2 separate regions of the Homo sapiens genome follow, and region 1 is linked to region 2. Evidence: fine-mapped QTL for protein levels in blood plasma. A gene starts in region 2. The other region holds a variant in brackets. All regions are shown on one strand. Distances are from middle to middle.

Region 1 (12,199 bases), 130 kb after region 2:
GACGTTGCAGTAAGCTGAAATTGCGCCACTGTGCTGCAGCTTAGGTGACAGAGTGATACCCTGTCTCCAAAAAAAAAAATCTATTAGAATAAAGTAAGCATATGTGACTAAAAATAACATGGTTAATTACTCCTGTGATTCATTTATTCGGTGAGTGTGTCCTGTGTGACTGGTATTGAGCTATTTTGTGGGCATACAGCAGTTATTACCTTTATGGAGATTTCCTTATTTTTAAAAGTCTGTTTCTACTGCCATATGACAGATAAACAAGATAATTATAGATTATGACCTTACAATAAAGGAAATAAGGTAATATGAAAGGAGTGTAAGGAGGGAGGGTACTATTGCCCTGGATAATGTGGTCAGGGGAGGACTTTTGGAGGAGATGATGATTCGAGCTGAGATCTGGAGAGTGAGAAGCCAAAAGCTTTAAGAGCAGGGGCAGGAGTGTTGTTGGTAAAGACTTCAAGGCATGGCCGGGTGCAGTGGCTCACACCTGTAATTCCAGAACTTTGGGAGGCCGAGGTGGGCGGATCACCTGAGGTTGGGAGTTTGAGACCAGCTTGACCAACATGGAGAAACCCCGTCTCTACTAAAAATACAAAATTAGCCGGGTGTGGTGGCACATGCCTGTAATTCCAGCTACTCAGGAAGTTGAGGCTGGAAAATCGCTTGAACCTGGGAGGCGGAGGTTGTGGTGAGCAGAGATTGGGCCAAAAAAGACCTGAAGGCAGGACAGAGCCTGGCACGTCTGGGGAGGTAAGAGACCTGTGTAGCTAGAGCATGGAGAGTACAGGGGAACGGAGCATGAGAAGGTTTGAGAAGGCAAGAAGAAGGGCCTTGCCATGGGTTCTGTTTAGTCCGTTTAGGCTTCTTTAACAATACCATAGACTGGGTAGCTTGTAAACGACAGAAACTTATCACAGTTCTGCATCCTGGGAAGGACAATATTGGGGTGCTGGCGTATTTGATGTTTGGTGAGGGCCTGCTTTGTGGTTCATAGATGCTGGTTTTTTCTTTTCTTCTTTTTCTTTTTTTGACGGTCTCACTCTGTTTCCCAGGCTGGAGTGCAGTGGTGATCTTAGCTCACTCCCACCTCCGCCTCCCAAGTTCGCTTTGGTGCTCTCAGCTCACTGCAACCTCTACCTCCCAAGCAAGCGATCCTCCTGAGTAGCTGGGGTTACAGGCATGCGCCACCGGCTAATTTTTGTATTTTTAGTGGAGACAGGGTTTCACCAAGTTGGCCAGGCTGGTCTCGAACGCCTGACCTCAGATGATCCGCCTGCCTCGGCCTCTCAATGTGCTGGGTTTACAGGCCTGAGCCACTGCGCCCATACCAGTTTGTTCCTTTTTGCTGTGTCTTCTTGCATGGTGCAAGGGGTAGGGGAGCTCTCTGGGGTGTCTTATAAGGCCACTAATCCCATTTGGGGATGAGGGGACTCTGCCCTCTGGACCTAATCACCTCCCAGCAGTCTCACCTTCTAACAACGTCACACTGGTGATCAGGTGTCAGCTTATGAATTTTGGGACACAAACATAGCAGGTGGTCAGGCGGTTGGGGCAGTTTCAATACCTAGACTAGTTAGGAAAGGTCTCAGAGAAGGAGAGGTTTTGTAGTGGAAGGGTAGCTTGAAAATAGGGTGAGTTGTAAGGCCAGACACCCAAGATTTGGCTGAGATGGGAGGATCCCTTGAGCCCAGGAAGGTTGACGCTGCAGTGAGCTGTGATTGAGCCACTCCACTCTGGCCTAGGTGACAGGGTGAGACCCTGTCTCAAAAACAAAAAAAATCTTTAGGAAACCTGTATATTTGAAGATCAAGGGCTAAAAATCCACTCAGTACCATTTAGCAGAGGATGTATGACATCCATTACACATCTGTTTCAAAAACAGCATGTTTCCAAAATTATACATCTCTTTACAAATAAACGTTATAGTATTAATAACTATAGAGGCACCATCAGAACTAGTTACAAAACATGCTGCTAACTTTCACAAGGCATCTCTGAGCCATCTCTTAAGTTCTGTATTTTGATCCCGGGGCTTTAAGAACATTTTCTTTGCTTTAATTAGTTGTAGGTCTCCATTTTCATTGTCTTCATAATTGGCTTGATCTCCCTTTTTGGCAGACTTTTTTCCTGTTGTCCCCACCAAGGTCTCATATTCTAGCCATTTCTTCTAGCCATTTCTTCTTCATCTGACACGTAAAATTCCACTGTTTCATCTTCAATTTCTGCTTTGTTCTTAGTATTCACCTGAAGCACTAATTTCTCAACCTCAGGAGTAAATCTGATGAATGAAATTCCTTCCATAGAAATGATCTTCACATAACAAGAGATGCTGCTCTTCTGTTATGAAATTCTTTACTTATTAAGCTCTGGCAAATCTGAGTACCAGTGCTCTTAACTAATTTTATTTTCTTCCTCTTCTAGTCATTTCTTAGTTTCTGAGTCCAGTCTTCTTTGCATGAACTTCATGTACAGCAGGTTCTTGGAGAACTTGGTCTTGTGCTCAGGTGCCATGCTGGCTTCAGCTTGTGCTGTGTTCTGGCCACCTGCTGTTTCTTAGTTAAGAGACTAGAATGAGAAAGTTACATGTAAGGATGTCAGTTGGTAGTATTATTGAAGGAAGAATATGTAGGGGGTGATGCTTGTTTATTGTCTGTGTACCCCACTGGAATTGTTGCTCCAAGAGGGCGTGAACTTTGTTATGTGAATTGTGGGGTGTGCCTACGTATAGGACAAAGCTTGGCACGTGGTAGGTACTTAGTAAAGGCTTGTTGAATGAATGAGTAGATGAATGAGTAGATCTACAAGTCTTGAGTATTTTGAGGAAAACATCTTATTGTAATCTCCATTTTATTCCTTTTTTTTTTTTTTTTTTTTTTTTGAGACAGAATCTCACTCTGTCCCCAGGCTGGAGTGCAGTGGCACAATCACGGCTCATTGCAACCTCTGCCTCCTGGGTTCAAGCAATTCTCCTGCCTCACCCTCCCAAATAGCTGGGACTACAGGTGAGCGCCATCACACCTGGCAAATTTTTGTATTTTTGGTAGAGACTGGGTTTCACCATGTTGGCCAGATTGGTCTCGAACTCCTGACCTCAAGTGATCTGCCCGCCTCAGCTTCCCAAAGTGCTGGGATTATAGGCGTGAGCCACCACGCTTGGCCGAAACAGGGTCTTGTTCTCTTACCCAGGCTGGAGTGCAGTGGTGTGACTACAGCTCACTGTAGCCTTGACCTTCCTGGCTCAGGTGGTTTCTCCCCTCAGCCTCCCCAGTAGTTGGGACTACAGGCACATGCCACCACTTTTTTTTTTTTTTTTTTTTTTTTTTAATTTTTTGTAGAGATGGGATTTTGTCATGTTGCCCAAGCTGGTCTTGATTTGCTGGGCTCAAGTGATCCTCCTGCCTTGGCCTCCCAAAGTGTTGGGATTACAGGCGTGAGCCGCCACACCCAGCCTTGGTAGAGGTTTTTTTGTTTGTTTGTTTTTGTTGTTGTTGTTTTGAGATAGCATCTCCCTGTGTTGCCCAGGCTGGAGTGCAGTGGCATAATCTTGGCTTACTTGCAACCTCCGTCTCCTGGGCTCGGATGATCTTCAGCCTCCCAAGTAGCTGGGACCACAGGCGCATGCCACCATGCCCAGCTAATTTTTGTATTTTTGGTAGAGACGCAGTTTTGCCACGTTGCCTAGGTTGTTCTCAAACTCCTGGCCTCAAGCAATCCACCTTCCTTGGCTTCTCAAAGTGCTGGGATTGTAGGCTTGAGCCACTGTGCCCAGCCTCTGGGTAGGATTTTCTAAGCAATGTTGTATTCTTAATTGAACATGTAAAAAGTAAAGTAGAGATTCCTCTTCAAAGACTTCCCCCACATCTAATCAGAAATAAATAGTAACTTCTCTTAAAAGCAAAATTTATTCAAAGACCTTTGCTAACATTCTTAAATATCTGCTAGCTGTAATAAATAAATCAGTGTACTTTATGTTCTTAGCTCCCACAATTTAGCCTAAATATTTGCCCTGGCATGCTTATACTGGTCCAAGCAAGCATTAGGTCATAGCCTGTTTAAAGGTATTTTTACCTTTCTCAGCATTCCACAAGTTACTTCCTCCTTCCTTTGTTGTCCTCTGCCTTTGCCTCTTTTTTTTTTTTTTTTTTTTTTTTTTTTTTTTTTTTTTGAGACAGAGTCTCGCTCTGTTGCTCAGGCTGGAGTGCAGTGGCATGATCTTGGCTCACTACAAGCTCCGCCTCCTAGGTTCATGCCATTCTCCTGCCTCAGCCTCCCAGGTAGCTGGGACTACAGGCGTCCACCACCACGCCCAGCTGATTTTTTTGTATTTTTAACAGAGGCAGGGTTTCACTGTGTTAGCCAGGCTGGTCTTGATCTCTTGACCTCGTGATCCGCCTGCCTCGGCCTTCCAAAATGCTGGGATTACAGGCGTGAGCCACCACGCCTGGCCTTCTTTGCCTCTTTTTAAAAGTTGTAAGTTGCTAGCCTATCAGGACAAATACAAAACGTGAGGTCCCGTTCCAGCCAATAAAAACCGGACACAGCAGTAGGATAGACACGTCAGGTTATAAATGACCCTGTCTCCTTTGCTCGGTGTACTTTTGTGGCAAAACTGCTGGCAAGTGTATCCTTTCTGCAGAAGGTATAAATGGCCTTGCTGAGAAAATTAAATTTATGTTCAAGTGCTATTTCTTTACGGCACTGAGGAACAAGCATTTCTTTTTTTTTCTTTCTTTTTTTTTTTTTTTGAGATGGAGTCTCGCTCTGTTGCCCAGGCTGGAGTGCAGTGGCGCGGTCTCGGCTCACTGCAAGCTCTGCCTCACGGGTTCACGCCATTCTCCTGCCTCAGCCTCCCGAGTAGCTGGGACTACAGGCGCCTGCCACCACGCCCGGCTAATTTTTTTGTATTTTTAGTAGCGTCGGGGTTTCACCATGTTAGCCAGGATGGTCTCGATCTCCTGACCTCGTGATCCATCCGCCTCGGCCTCCCAAAGTGCTGGGATTACAGGTGTGAGCCACCGCACCCGGTCGGAACAAGCATTTCTAACAAACATATAAGGCCAGCTGTATGCTTTTTGTTACATGTCTTCTGTGATATAGAAGCAAACAAGAAGTTCTGCAAACAAGACAGTTTGTTAGCACACTTGCATACGTGTGTGAATGCATGGAATACATTGCTGTGGTTTGAGTACTTTTGGTTGCCTAAAAATCACATGCATGGGTAGGTGTTTAAAAAATTGTACGTTAGATATGCTACTATAACTTACAGCAGAAGGTTATATAAGCTGCATTTTCCAAAGTGGCTGGATTTGACAGGAGAGACAAGTAGTTTTGATTTTATTCTGTTTAATCCTACAACCAGACTAGTCCTTCTGTTGAACTGATAAGGAAGATTGTGAAATTGGGTCATTCTCTTGATTCCTGTAGTGCCTCTTCTTTCTTGTATCCTAAGTATGAAAATGGGTTACTTCAGGGGCAAACGTATTTCACATGAAGGCAACTTTACTTTTAGTGTGTTTTGGATTAGAGTGAATGTGGTGTCAGAAAAAGAAAATTCAGTTCTGATACTAACAGTTTAATTCTGATACTCCCACCCCACAGCTTAAGGGCTCAGTCTTGGAAGACTGCCCTCACTTTAGGCAGCAGCTACAAATGCAGTGCCTAGGCTACCTATACCTCTGCCCAGTAGACTACAAATTTTGGGATTCCCATGGCCCTTCTTAGGTTTGATTATTAGCTAGAACAACTCATAGAACTCAGGAAAACGTTTTACTTACCTTTTTTTTTTTTTTTTTTTTTTTTGGGATGGAGTCTCGCTCTGTTGCCCAGGCTGGAGTACAGTGGCGTGATCTCAGCTCACTGCAAGCTCTGCCTCCCAGGTTCATGCCATTCTCCTGCCTCAGCCTCCCGAGTAGCTGGAACTACAGGCGCCTGCCACCACGCCTGGCTAATTTTTTGTATTTTTAGTAGAGTCGGGGTTTCGCCATGTTAGCCAGAATGGTCTCGATCTCCTGACCTCATGATCTGCCCGCCTCGGCCTCCCAAAGTGCTGGGATTACAGGCTTGAACCACCGTGCCTGGCCGTTTTACTTACCTTTATGCCTTTGTCATAAAGGGTACAACTCACGAACAGCCAAATGGAAGAGATACATAGGGCACGGTTGTGGGTGGGGAGGGATTCAGGTGACCTGCTTTCCCCTCACCTTGAAATGTTCACAGACCTGGAAGCTCTCCAAATCTTCTGTTCTGGAGTTTTCATAGAGCTCAGTTTCTAGCCCTCCTCCCCTCTCTGGAGGTTGGTGCATGGGGCTGAAAGTTACATCCCTCTAGTCACTTTGCCTTTCTGGTGACCAGCCCCATCCTGAGGCTTCCTAGCATCCCTTCCACCGCCACCCTGTCACTTTATTAACATAAATTCAGGTGTGAATTTGTTATGAAAAACAAGAGACACTCAGCACTCAGGAAATTCCTAGGGTTTTTAGGAGCTCTCTGCTAGGAAGTGGGGACGGAAACCAAATATTGCCAAATATTTGGTGTATTACCAAAAATTTGACTTGCCTTTTATTCACAGTTACTATTAATACTTGACATAGTTTTAAAAGAGGTGTAATCTTATTGAGAATATAAATTTTTTGTAAAACTTACTAGCAAATATTTAATCTCAAATCTTAAGGTTGCTGTCTCTCTGTGCCTAGAATGAACCATGGGGCACGGGAAAATAGGGCATTTGTAGCTGGGAGTATCCCCTTCCTCCATACAGATCGTTTGCTCAGGGATTGTCTGGTGGAGTTTAGATGGCAGCCAGCCAATCATAATGATACCATAGAGAGGGTTCCATAACCTTTTAAAATCTGTAGTGTGTGGACTTAAAATTTCAGGTGCTATAGCTCTGAGATTCTTAAAGGATATTTGAATTCCCATAGTGTTAAGAACCTGGAAGAGGCCAGGTGCAATGGCTCGTGCCTGTAATCCCAGCACTTTGGGAGGCTGAGGTGGGTGGATCACCTGAGGTCAGGATTTTGAGACCAGCCTGGCCAATGTGGCGAAACCCCGTCTCTACTAAAAAAATACAAAAATTAGCCAGACATGGTGGTGCGTGCCTGTAATCCCAGCTACTTGGGAGGCTGAGGTGGGAGAATCGCTTGAACCCTGGAGGCGGAGGTTGCAGTGAGCCGAGATCACGCCATTGCACTCCAGCCTGGGTGACAGAGCAAAACTCTGTCTCAAAAAAAAAAAAAGAAAAATAAAAAACCTAGAAGATATGGGTATTGGAGGGGTAGATGCCAGGAAGGACAGAAGGAAGATATACCTTATTTCACAATTTTATTTCCTTATGATTGGCAGAATCATTTTAAAAAAAATATTTGAGACAGGGTCTTGCTCTGTCATCCAGCCTGGAGGGCAGTGGCACAATCATAGCCAACTGCAGCCTTGGACTCAAGCAATCCTCCCACCTCAGCCTCCCTGGTAACTGGGACTACAGGTGTGTGCCACTTCACCCAGCTAATTTTTTTTTTTGTAGAGATGGGGTCTCACTCTGTTTCCCAGGCTGGTCCCAAACTCCTGGGTTCAAGCAATCTCCCCACCTTGTCCCCCCAAAGTGCTGGGATTACAGGTGTGAGCCACCATGCCTGACCCTGCAGAATCATTTTTTATGCTGTAAGTTGCCCAACCCCAATTCTAAGTTGTGGTACAAATGAACTTCACTGTTAAAAAGAGGTAGGATTCAGTTATTGGTGCAAAATAACTTAGCTTTTCTTTTTCTTTCTTCTTTTTTGAGACGGAGTCTCACTGTGTTGCCCAGGCTGGAGTGCAGTGGCGCCATCTTGGCTCACTGCAGTGCGCCTCTGCCCCCCGAGTTCAAGCGATTCTCCTGCCTCAGGCTCCTGAGTAGCTGGGACTACAGGTGCGTGCCACCATGCCCAGCTAATTTTTTGTATTTTTAGTAGAGATGGGGTTTCACCGTGTTAGCCAGAATGGTCTCCATCTCCTGACCTTGTGATCTGCCTGCCTCGGCCTCCCAGAGTGCTGGGATTACAGGCATGAGGCACCGTGCCCAGCGCAGAATAACTTTTCTGGTTAGCAGAATGGTAATTGTTTCTATGTGGCCTCTTTGCTGCCGTAGTGATTTGACATTATTTAATAGGAGATTAACATAGGGTATATGAACATGTCTGACTTATATATATTGTAAAACCCAAAGTCTCTCCCCTGATTGCTCCCTTTACCCACCCCAATCTGTGGAGTATCTGGTGACATTAAGAAAAAAAATTAAGAAAAAAAGAAATAGAGGTCAGGTCTTAACTATGTTGCCCAGGCTGGTCTTGAACTCCTCAGCTCTAGTGATCTTCCCACTTTGGCCTCCCAAAGTGCAAGGATTACAGGTGAGCCACTGTGCTCTTTAATACATGTGTTAAAGGGCAAAACTACAACAAATTTAAATCTCACTTGGCTTTATTGTGATTTTAGAGTTGGGCAGTGTGCTTCATTCCACAAAACAGAGTTGAGCAGAAGAGGTTGGCTTAATAGAAGAGCTGAGGAAAGGGGAAGCAAAGAACAAAGGGCCTATTAGTTGTTTCAGAGCTACCTTTCTTGTAAGGCAGGGACAGGGAGAAGACAGAACAATAGAAAAATAACTGATTAGTTAATATCAGGTTACTTCAGGCTGCTTTTTTTTGTGTAAGGGTTAAAGCAGAGGGAACTTCATTATCATTCCAATTGAAGATTGAAAGTGGCCTGTTTGGTAAACTGGCTGTCATCTCTCCTGTTTCTCAGAAGGTCAGATAACAACTAAATTTAAGTTTAGTGATGTGAAACTTTAGCATGAGTAACTCCGTTTTGATTTTTAGTCTGGTCACTTGGGGCCTAGTGCAGGAGATTAGTCCACAACGGTAGCCTCCTATAGTTTTTATTTAACACATGAAACAATTATTAATACATGCCAAATGCTTTGCAGAATAGTCTTAATTAGAACTTGACTCTGAAATGACCATCTTTGTAATGGTAACTCTACATTTGACTACATTTGTGCTGAGAACAATTAGTATAATCTTCCCTTGATATTGCAGGGGATTGATTCCAGAACTCTCCAAGGATACAACAATCCTGGAATGCTCAAGTTTCTTATATAAAATTACATAGTACAGTTATCCATCTGTATCTGTGGGTTCTGCCTCTGTGTACATGGAGGGCTGACTGTACTGTAATTATCTTGGAGATAAAAAGTGTTATGAGTTCCTTTCTAAGAAGTTTGGAATTGCTGTTTTAAAATTCCTTATATTGACTTTAAAGTTACCATTACTTGTTAAAGACTAATAATTAACATGTACTAAGCATGTACTGTATGCCAAGCACTGTTGCAAGTTCTTTACATGTATTATCTTAGTTTACCTTATGAGAAAGGTAGTACTGTTTTCATTTTTAGAGAAGGGGAAACCAAGCTACACAGAGGTTGAATAACACAGAGGTTGAATAGCTAGAGTGTGGTAGAGCCACTCTGACTCCAGAACCCAGGCTTAACAGGGGACTCACAACCAACCAGTTTGTAACAAATTGCAGAGCAGTCAGGTCGGGAAGTCTAAGAAGTGGAAGATTTGTGGGTAAATAGAAAGGGGAAGAACAAACTCTTATCTTACTCCCTTCTCCCAATAAAATTCAGTAGTTATATGCAGGGTGAAAAACAGGAAATAAGCTTAGCCCCTATTTTTTGCTTCCTCTTCTTTATATTTGCTTTCCTCTTTGCATTGCTGGTAACTCACGGATATATACTTGTCATTCCACTAGCACTGATTATATTTGTTTTTATTAATGTCACTTCTCAGACAGTATAGTGTAATGTAATGTTTATCAAGAGCAGGGACTTGAGGTTGGGCACGGTGGCTCACACCTGTAATCCTAGCACTTTGAGGGGCCCAGGCAGTTGGATTACTTGAGGTCAGGAGTTCAAGACCAGCCTGGCCAACATGGTGAAACCCTGTCTCTATTAAATACAAACATTATCCAGGCGTGGTGGCATGCACCTGTAATCCCAGTTGCTCTGGAGGCTGAGGCAGGATAATCGCTTGAACCCGGGAGGCAGAGGTTGCAGTGAGCAGAGATCACGCCACTGCACTGACACATACACACACACACACACACAACAAGCAGGGACTTGAGAGTCAGACTGCTTGGGTTTAAATTACAGTTCTCCCAGTTACTGGCTGAATAGCCTTGGCTTAGTTACTTGCTGAGCCTCACTCTTCTTATCTGTAAAATAGGGATAATACAGCACATACTTCATAGGCTTTTTGGGAGGATGAAATGTGTGAATATGTGTAATATGTTTTGAACAGTACATAGCACTTAGTAAATGCTGTATGAGTGTTTGCTGCTTACTATTATTATTTGAGTGCTTTTAGATTTAACCAGTAATTGATTGATCTTAGGGATCAGGGTTGTTAATCTTTAATGCTGTATTAGTTAGTATGGGTGCTTCTTAGTGCATAAAAGGGAAAGGAGAAGGAAAAAGGAGATATAAAAGGAAGTTGAATAAAGAAGGATAAATATGGCTGGCTGCGGTGGCTCATGCATGTAATCCCAGCACTCTGGGACTTTGGGAGGCCGAGGTGAGTGGATTGCTTGAGTCCAGGAATTCAAGACCAGCCTGGGTAACAGTGAGACCCGTCTCTTAAAAAAACAAAAACCAAACAAAAACCCAGCCGGGCATGGTGGCATGCGTCTGTGGTTCCAGCTACTTGGGAGGCCAAGGTGG[G/A]AGGATTGCTTGAGTCTGGGAGGTGGAGGTTGCAGTGAGCTGAGGTTGTGCCACTGCACTCCAGCCTGGGTGACGGGAGTAAAACCCTGTCTAAAAAAAAGAAAAATATACTGCAGATAATTTTGATGAGGAGCGGGAGAGTGTATATTTCATGTGAGTTACTCACACTAATGTAGTTTCATGTTCTTTTGTTTCGTGATTTTTGCATCCAATCAACAACTCACAGTGTGTCAGTCTAGAAGTGCTCAGTGCTAGAAGTATAGTGGTGCATGAGGTAGTATAGGTTCATTTACAGGGATGTTAATAGGCATTTATAAATTGTTATGATTAATTGTTGTGAATGGTGCTATAGGAGCATGGTGGCATCTGACCAAGAGTTAGGTGGTTCTGTATTTTTATGTTTAATTATAACCCCTTTAGGATTATAATTTAAATTAATTTAAATATAAATCTTAAAATTTAGGTACATATTGGGTGGTGTTTCTTTTTATTCTTTCAGAAAACTGTTAAAGTATTTCATTGAATCTAAGATTCCAATTTCATAGAAGTCAAAATGTGGGGGAAAAATGGCTGATAATGATTCTAAGAGACTCAAAGATACATTCTGACTTTAGAGATGTTAACATGAAAAAAAGCATCTCAAATTAATGACTCTTTGGTACTTGTAATTGATAGCTTCTTAAAATGGAGGAGGACTCTAGTAAGAGAAGCTATAGTATCTGTTTATAAGTCAGTATGCTTTAGAGCAATCTGACTTTTTCATTATAAAAATGTAGGTTTTGGACTAGGCATTCTGGTGCTAAAACAGCTGCTGAGGCCAGCGATCACCCTGTTCTTTGTTCAGTTCCTCACGTTACTCATATAATTACCGTGTGATCGTGTGGTGCTCTGCTGCTTGTTGGTCAGAGCCTGAGTAAGGCTGAATAAGGCTGGATCATGAACCATTCTTTAAAGCAGTGGCCTTTGTATTGCAGTCTAGTTGACATACATGCATACATACAGGTGTGTGTGCACGTGTAACTGAAGAACAGCTTTCACAAAATAATATTTAGCACACTGTGGAATTTTCTCTGATACAGCCTCTTCTCTTTCATGATAAAAATAAATTCGCTGATTATCACACCACTTTGGACCTTTTAAAAATAACACTTAAGAAGTTGGAATAGCCAGGGATCAGAAACTTAGAAATGGACCTTATTTGTTATTGTAACTTATAGCAAGTCATTGTGTCTCTTATTGGGTTCTTTTAGCCATAATAATTGTGCTAGTTCTTTTCTTGCTCTGAGTGCCTGAACCTGTTGCTAAGTGAGGAAGAAAAATCCATATGTAAGTATAAATAAACAAATGTCTTTAATCTTTTTGCAGGTCATCATCAGATTTGAAATATTTAAAGTGGATACAAAACTATTTCAGCAATGCAGACAATTAAGTGTGTTGTTGTGG
Region 2 (8,000 bases):
CTTATGCCTGTCATCCCAACACTTTAGGAGACCGAGGCGAGAGGATCGCTTGAGGCCAGGAGTTTGAGACCAGCCTGGGCAACAAAGTGTGATGCCCTCTTTTTTTTTTTTTGAGACAGAGTCTTGCTCTGTCGCCCAGGCTGGAGTGCAGTGGCGCGATCTCGGCTCACTGCAAGCTCCGCCTCCCGGGTTAACGCCATTCTCCTGCCTCAGCCTCCGGAGTAGCTGGGACTACAGGTACGTGCCACCATGCCTGGCTAACTTTTTGCATTTTTAGTAGAGACAGGGTTTCACTATGCTGGCCAGGCTGATCTTGAACTCCTGACCTCATGATCCGCTCGCCTCGGCCTCCCAAAGTCCTGGGATTACTGGCGTGTGCCACCGCGCCTGGCCCCGAAAAACTTTTTATTGTTTGTTTGTTTTGAGGCGGAGTCTCACTCTGTCACCCAGGCTGGAGTGCAATGGTGTGGTCTCAGCTCACTGCAACCTCCGCCTCCTGGGTTCAAGCGATTCTCCTGCCTCAGCCTCCCGAGTAGTTGGGATTACAAGCATGCGCCACCACACCCGTCTAATTTTTGTATTTTCAGTACAGATGGGGTTTCACTATGTTGGCCAGGCTGGTCTCAAACTCCTGACCTCGTGATCCGCCCACCGTGGCCTCCCAAAGTGCTGGGATTACAGGCATGAGCCACCGCGCCTGGCCTGAAAAACTTTTTAAAAAGAATTTTATAAAGAGACTTCAGGGGCCAAGCTCTTTCCAGCCCACCACCAGCAGCCTGGGGTGGGACAGCGACCCTCCATGTGTTGCTGAGAAGGCTCTCTAATCCCACAGGATTGGAGCTGCCTGTTTATTTGTCTAAATTACCGCCCACCAGCCTGTGAGTGCTGGGAAGGCACAGACAGGGCCTGTCCTTGCTGGTCCAACCCACCCCAGCCCCTAGCACCACACGAGGTTCACTGGTTCACTGGCACACAGTAGGTGCATGGCAAATATCTGCCCAAAGAATGAACCTCTGTACTCCCAGTGACTGCCATGGAATGTCGCTCAGTGATGATCTGTTGAATGAACAAGTGAATGAGATGATCTGCCACGGTCCAGGAATGTCTGTGGAAATTCCTCATGCACACAGCAAACAACTCCACCCACCGCCATCCTACCGCACCCGGGCATGGAGGAGCCCCTCATCGGGGGCAGAGCTGGGGGAAGGTCAGGAAAGACTGTTGGGCCTCGGAAAACATCCCACGTGCTAGGTTGGTGCGTTGGGAAAAGTAAAAGTCAGTGCCAGGAGTGCAAGTTCAGGTCAAGACTAGGGAGCTACTGGATGGCCCTGCTGAATATTTTGGGGTGAGAGGCTGAAACAGGAGGACGACAGAGGAGGCTGCCCAGAGTGGGGATGGGGGAGGAGAAGTGCTGGGTGGGTGGGGCAAGAGCAGTGAGGAGCCAGGTCTGGGTGGGGGCTTGACGAGTGACTCAGGAGGGTAGAGGTGCGATGAAGCCAGGAAGGTGAGGCCAGGCAGGCAGTTCCTGGGTAAACACCAGCCTGGTTAGAAAAGTCCCTCTCTTGGCTCAGAGAACAGGGAGGCAGGTATGGGGACTGCCTAGGAGCACCTCGGAGAGAGTGGGGGTGGCTCTGTGGCTCCCCACGGTAGGCTCGGCTCCCCAGATGTGCCCCCACCCACATCTGCCACTAGCTCCCTGCCCACCGACCCCACCCAGTCCTCCTCAAGTTCACTCAGGTCCTCAGGGCCTCTGCTGGCCAAGTGCCTTCTAAGCCTCGGGATTCCTGACCGTAGAATTCCCTTTTCCTCCACCTAAGCTCAGAGTAGGGGACTAGACTGCAAGGGCAGGCCTCTCCCTGCCTCTTGGAGACCTGGGAAGAGGAAAGCTGGGGAACTCGGGTCCCCCAAGGGTGCACTGCATCCCCGCACCACGCACTTTGCAGCTCATTCCACGCAGTCCAGCAACGCCCTGCAGCTATGCATTTTGAGGCCGTGCATTTTGAGTTCCCTTGACCCACGTGGGGCTGGCCTCAGAGAGGTTAACTAGCGTGCCCCAGGTCACACAGTTACTCAGTGAAAGGCAGGGATTGATTCAACTCTTCGGCTGTATGACTCCAAGGCCCGTGGGTGTTCCACACAAGCTTCAGTTCTGTCCCAAAAGTTTTGCTTGTGCCTACCTGGGTCCAAGCTCCCCAAGGTGATAGACGGTGTGGTAAAGTTTCAGCGAGACTCATAGGGTCCCCATCACCACTGAGTGGCCGTTCTGCCAAGCTGGCGCAGAAGGGTTCCCTCGTCCTGCCAAGTTCCCACCCTGCTCAAAGTTTCCCCTCCTGGTCCCCAGGAATGGTAGGCCGGACCATGCCCAGCGAGACTCCAGCACTCGGCAACGTGGCCGAGAGACCCACGGGCTCCCACACGGGCCAGCCCCGCCCCCAGCCCCACGAAGGGTCCTGACTGGTGGCCCCCCTGGATTAGCCCCATGCCGCAGGGTGGCGCCGGCCCGGGGTCCCCGGCGGGCGCCGCCGTCCCGGGCCAGAGTCCCCGCCGCGCAGCCTTGGGCGCCCCAGCCAAGTTGGCGGGAGGCGGCGAGCGGGACCGGGGCGCCCCTAGCCCCTCCGCCCCCGCCCCCCGCCCCTCTGCCCCGCACACTCACCGCCAGCAGCCGCCCGTGCAGCAGCAGCGCCAGCAGCAGCGCGCCCGCCGCCCGCCACCCCATGGCCCGGCCCGCGCCGCTCTCTCGCTCGCTCGCTCCGCGCCGCCCGCTCCGCGCCGCCCGCAGCCGCCCGCTCGCCGGCCAGCTCGGGACAGCGCGGCCCTCTCCCCACCGCCCCCTTTCCTCCCCGCCCGCCCCGCCCCCGCAGCGCCGGCCCCGCCCCCGAACCGCCCCTCCCCGGAGCGCCAGGCCCCGCCCACGGACCGCCCCCGGGCCGCGGGCTCTGCTCGCCCCAGCCGGCCGCGCAGCCTACTAGGCCTTTGTCTGGGCCCCCAGCCCCCTCCGCGCGGGCCGCGGCCCGGCCCGGCTCCCCGCCAAACCCGGCCTGGAGTATGGGATGGGACGGGGCGGGGGACCGGGGGCCCGGGCCCGGGCATGGGATGGGGCCGCCGGGCCAGGCGCTCTCGCCTCCCCGATCCCCGGCTCCCCCGCTTCCCCGCGCGCGCCGCCGACTTCCACGCCCCTGCACGCCCCGCACGGCCGACTCCACTCGCGCAGCTTTTGAAGATCCCGGGATCTCCTTCCCACGCTCACACGCACGCAGCTGCCGCTCCGCGCCACACGTGCACGCCAACTTCCACACCCAAGAACACCTTCACACCATAACTTTACTGCACGAACACACTTGTGCGCTACCCGGGAACACTTTCACACTCTGGACCCAACTCTGAAGTACCAACAATCCTCACCGGCTCACATGCACACTTAACTCGCTTCCAAACTCTCACCTCCACCAGGGACACAGGAGACAGCCCTCACACCACACTCAGCCCCTCACTCACGCATACATCCCAACAAGTCACGGAGCGGGAGGACGCCTTTTCACATAGATTCCTCGCAGGCACGCACATTTCACACACAGGCCCACATCATTGCCTACATGCTTACCAGCTTGTTTTTTTTTTTTTTTTTTTTTTTGAGAAGGAGTCTCGCTCTGTCCCCAGGCTGGAGTGCGGTGGTGGGATCTTGGCTCACTGCAACCTCCGCCTCCGGGTTCAAGCAATTCTCCGGCCTCAGCCTCCTGAATAGCTGGGATTACAGGCGTGCCACCACGCCTGGCTAATTTTTGTATTTTTAATAGAGATGGGGTTTTTACCATGTTGGCCAGGCTGGTCTCGAACTCCTGACCTTGTGATCTGCCCGCCTTGCCCTCCCAAAGTGATGGGATTACAGGCATTGAGCCACCGCACCCAGCCTCAGCCTGTATCTTTTACCTGTTCTCACCCACTAATCACAGTGCCTCATAGTGGGCACTGGGTACTGAACTGAGCTGCCCACCCCACCTGCACCATTTTCCATGTAAATCACTCACACACCAACTTTGAGTCACATAAATCACAGCCCCAGAGCCAGAACCACACCAACTCACACACTCAGGCCCAGACAGACAGACCCTGCCAAAGCCCCATCACAGATGCTCGGGTGGGTGGTAAAATCACAGCCCCATGATCTGTCTCTGACCCAACCGCAGGCAGCAAACAGCACCAAGCCCCCAGACCTATTCACTGCCTACTCTTCAGCTCCCCTCTTCTGCCTGAAATTTCCAGGGCAGCCCGAGGCTGATGGGTGGAGAGGAAAACTATGTGTGTGTAGCTTTGAGGAAAACCTTTTGAGTAATGATAGAGGAGGAGAATAAAACTGAAGTTTCCATTGTTTCCTGTGAGAGTTGCTAGGTTCCAGAAACTCATGGCTGGGTTTGCAGCCAGGAGTGAGGTGAGCTGTGGACAGAAGGAAATGCCCAGCTCACTGGGCGGCACCAGGCCTGGCTCCGGAAGCTATGTTCCCTGTGATAGGGGTCCGCAGGCTCCCAAGCACATTGGGGCCTCTCATCCAGGCATCTGGGGGATTGAAAAAACACTGGCATCCTGACCCCCATCCCAGATAGATCCCCTATCTCCAAAAGATATCTCCAAAATATGCCCTGTGGGGCATATTTCTGTGGGACCAGCTCAGAGTTGTAAAGAACAGAAATTGCATCCACGGTAGTCAGGCCAACTGCCTGGCCCCAACCCAGGCTCCAGGCACAGCACTGAATAAGGTCTATCTCTGATCCGCACAGGGAGATAGGGGTGGACAGAGGAGGGACGCCCAATCTTGGCCCTCAGTAAACTCTTAATCTGATAGAGGTGTGGGGAAGAATAGTCCCTGTCCGGGTATTGTTCTCAGTCTGATAGAGAATCCTGCCTCCACCACCTAGCCGTGCAATCTTGAGCACATGATTCAACTTCCATGTCTCAGTCTCTGCATGTAGAAAATGAGAATAACGTTAAGACGTCTCTCTTAGTGTTGTTATGAGAATTAAGATAAATTAATATATTTCTTTTAAAAAACACAGCCATTTCAGACACTTGGTAAGCATGAAATAAGTGGTAGCCATTTCTCTTATTACTATTTCTGGTGTGCTCCCAATCTAAAGAGAGAGACATGACTTGGCCCTTGGGGAGCTGAGGTCTGATAGAGGAGCAGCCTCCACAGCCACCCCAGGGACCTCCCATTTGAGGGGAGAGTACACCAGGTTTGCACTTGGAAACTCCCTGTCCGATGAGAAAGGCTTCAAAACTCCACTGACTTCAGAGCTGGCAGGTGGCCAGCCCTAGTGGCAGGATTTTTCCAAGGCCTTGCCTGTCCATGGATTTGTCAGCATCCGTGACAAATCGCATTTCATGAGCTGCCTCAGTGTCTGTTCCCTACCTCGGGCCCTTTAAGTACCAGAGCTTTGGCTTCTTGGATGATTTGCTCATGAGCAAAGGGGGAAAAAAAGGGAAACAAGCAACCCTTTGTAGATGTTTGGTCAAGACTAACCCAGAGCTATAAGTCTTCCTTCCTCAAAGGGGTTGAGGAAAGAGATGGTAAGGCCGACTAGGGACTGGAAGGAGCTGGGCTGACACGCAGAAAGCAGGAATATATGGCATGTTGAGAAAGTCTTCCAGGGCGGCTCCAGCAGCGGAGGATTGGTCATCCACCTATTTATTCTGTGTCCTCTCCTTCCCACTAAGGGATTTGCCTGGGTCTGTTTTAGTTTGCAGTCCTTGATATCTTTAGCAAATGCTCTCAAGTTGCTTTGTCTAGAGCCTGGCTATCTCCTCATATGGCTAAGAAGAGGAGCAGGCACAAGGCCTTCTGGGCTTGGCAAAACCTTGGAGGCGCCCATAATCTCACTGTATGTACACAGAGTTCAGGGTGCTGGTCACACTCGAGGAGAGAAACAACTCAAGTCTCATACAAGGTTCCCTGGGCACGGAGAGACTACAACAGCTTGGATAGGCAGAAATAGTCAAACAGCTTGACTTCTGAGAATAGGTGTTGGGGGTTCTGGAACCAGCAGCTGGAGTTTGTGGCTTACCTGTCCACTCCTCCAAATTCAGTAGGACTCATCTTCTGGCTTCCACTCCCATTCCAAATCTTTTCTCTGCCTGAGAGCTTATCATTCATCTTAATCACATTCCTTTGTCCATTCATTCATTCATTCAGGGCTGCAGTGGACAGTTGCGCAGGTTGTTCACTGAACAAAGGTGTGCAGCCAAGTGGGTAAATAGGAACTGTAATGGGCCCTGTTGTGGGGCTACATCTGCCCAGAATGGGTACTTTTTTTTTTCTTTTTGAGACAGAATCTTGCTCTGTTGCCCAGGTTGGAGTGCAGTGGCACGATCTCAACTCACTGCAACCTCTGCCTCCTGGGTTCAAGCGATTCTCCTGCCTCAGCCTCCCAAGTAGCTGGGATTACAGGCACATGCCACCACACCTGGCTAATTTTTTGTATTTTTAGTAGAGACAGGGTTTCATCATGTTGGCCAGGCTGGTCTCGAACTCCTGACCTCAAGTGATCCACCCGTCTCGGCCTCCCAAAGTGCTGGGATTACAGGCGTGAGCCACTGCACCCGGCCCAGAATGGGTACTTTTTGCTGATATGAGTGAAGGCACTGTAAGGCTAGCTGTGGCCCTATATTCATTCAATAGTGAAACTAAACACTGCCCACGAGAGTTTCTATGTCCATGTGGGAAAACAAATGCTAATAGAGTAACAATATGTCCTTGGGTGAAAATGAAGAGTCAGAAATTGGTGTGAAAGAGAATTGAGATGGAGGAGAAAAAACAAGAAGATAGTACTGAAGAAGAGGAGGAAGAGGAGGCAGGAGGTGGGTCTAAGCAGGCAGCAAAAGTTCCCATGGAGAGGGCGGGGACCCCACAAGGCCTGGCATGATCTAGTCCTGCCCATCAATCCAGCCACAGCCCTTCCCCACCATAGTCTTTGCAGATGCTGTTCCCTCTCCTAAGTGCTTTTCCCAGTTAACACCCATCCCCCTTCACTCTACTCTCCCTTAAGATTGAGTCCAAACATCACATGACCACAGAAATCTTCTCTGACCTCCCAAGCGAGGTCGTGTTCCCCACCACACTTTCCCACAGCGCCCCCCCCGCCATGCTTTTCTTGTAGCATTTTTGACCATTGTAATTATTTGGAAGATCATTTAATATTATGAGGCATAATGAAGGCAGAGGGCATGAAGGTCTTGTTTCTGTCTTGGTCCCAATTATATCCCCTGTGAAGAGCACAGTGTGTGGCACAGAGTTGGCATTTGGATAATTGTTACTTAAATGAAAGAACAAGACATTAGTTCAAACGTGGCACACAGTGTAAATGTCCCTGTTCTGGTTTGTGCTTGGAACAAAGATAAACCCTGGGGAGCAGGCAAGGCAGTACATTTTATTATTCCCCTCCCTTTCCAGCTGGGAAAACTGAGGCCCAGGGGATGAAGTGGCTTGCCCAGGTCATGCAGTCAGTAAGAGGTAGAACCAGGATTCATGTCCATGTCGGTCTGATTCTACAAACTCCCATTCTCAACCACACCCATTCTGCCTCCCTGTGGGCTGTTCTCAACTCTGGCCAGGCACAAGTGCGCTTCTCCCAGCTCAGGCAGAAGCGTGAATCTTCTGAAAGCTCTTGTATTTGACCCCCTGCCCCAACTTGATGTTTCCCCACTACCCTTCATCATTATCAATTGCTTTCTTGGACTGGGGTCCCAGGCCCAAGGCAGGGTTCCCACACTGTGCCTCATGGGTCACCTGCAATCTGAGATGCTCTTTGAAAAAGAGGTTCTTTGGCCAAAGAAGTTTGGGTACCCTGCACTCTTTCCCACACTTTGACCACCTCAAGGGACACCAAAGCAGGAAGGGTTTTGAATAGGCCTCCAGTGAAGTCGCCTGTGCAACTGTGTTTAATCCAGCCTTCCTCAACCTCTTTGAGAACGGAACCCAGTGGTTTTTATGGAAAATCCTTTTAAAATCT

Direction of the effects. Alleles are on the strand shown, and positions count from the first base shown. The strength of an association depends on the size of the effect and on how common the allele is.
With allele A in place of G in region 1, the plasma level of the protein whose gene starts at base 2,809 in region 2 is lower (weak association).

The links. PIP is the chance, under the fine-mapping model, that this variant and not a neighbour inherited with it causes the effect. Protein levels are from antibody-based Olink assays in UK Biobank. Linkage for the fine-mapping came from a reference panel and not from the study's own genotypes, which makes the PIPs less certain.
Region 1: its variant is fine-mapped to the plasma level of the HSPG2 protein (UK Biobank, PIP 0.98).

Annotation. Positions count from the first base shown.
Region 1 is chr1:22,066,308-22,078,506 of GRCh38, forward strand. CDC42 (cell division cycle 42) reads left to right here. Exons shown (of 6, transcript NM_001791.4): 2 at 12,122-12,199. The coding sequence starts at 12,172. It also overlaps the pseudogene MPHOSPH6P1. Among named protein-coding and RNA genes, the nearest start is that of CDC42, 20 kb to the left of the region's middle. RefSeq lists a silencer at 11,548-11,627. The variant G/A (reference allele first, on the strand shown) is at 10,757.
Region 2 is chr1:21,934,502-21,942,501 of GRCh38, forward strand. HSPG2 (heparan sulfate proteoglycan 2) reads right to left here and starts at 2,809. Exons shown (of 97, transcript NM_005529.7): 1 at 2,654-2,809. The coding sequence starts at 2,716. RefSeq lists an enhancer at 1,259-2,100 and a silencer at 2,848-3,197.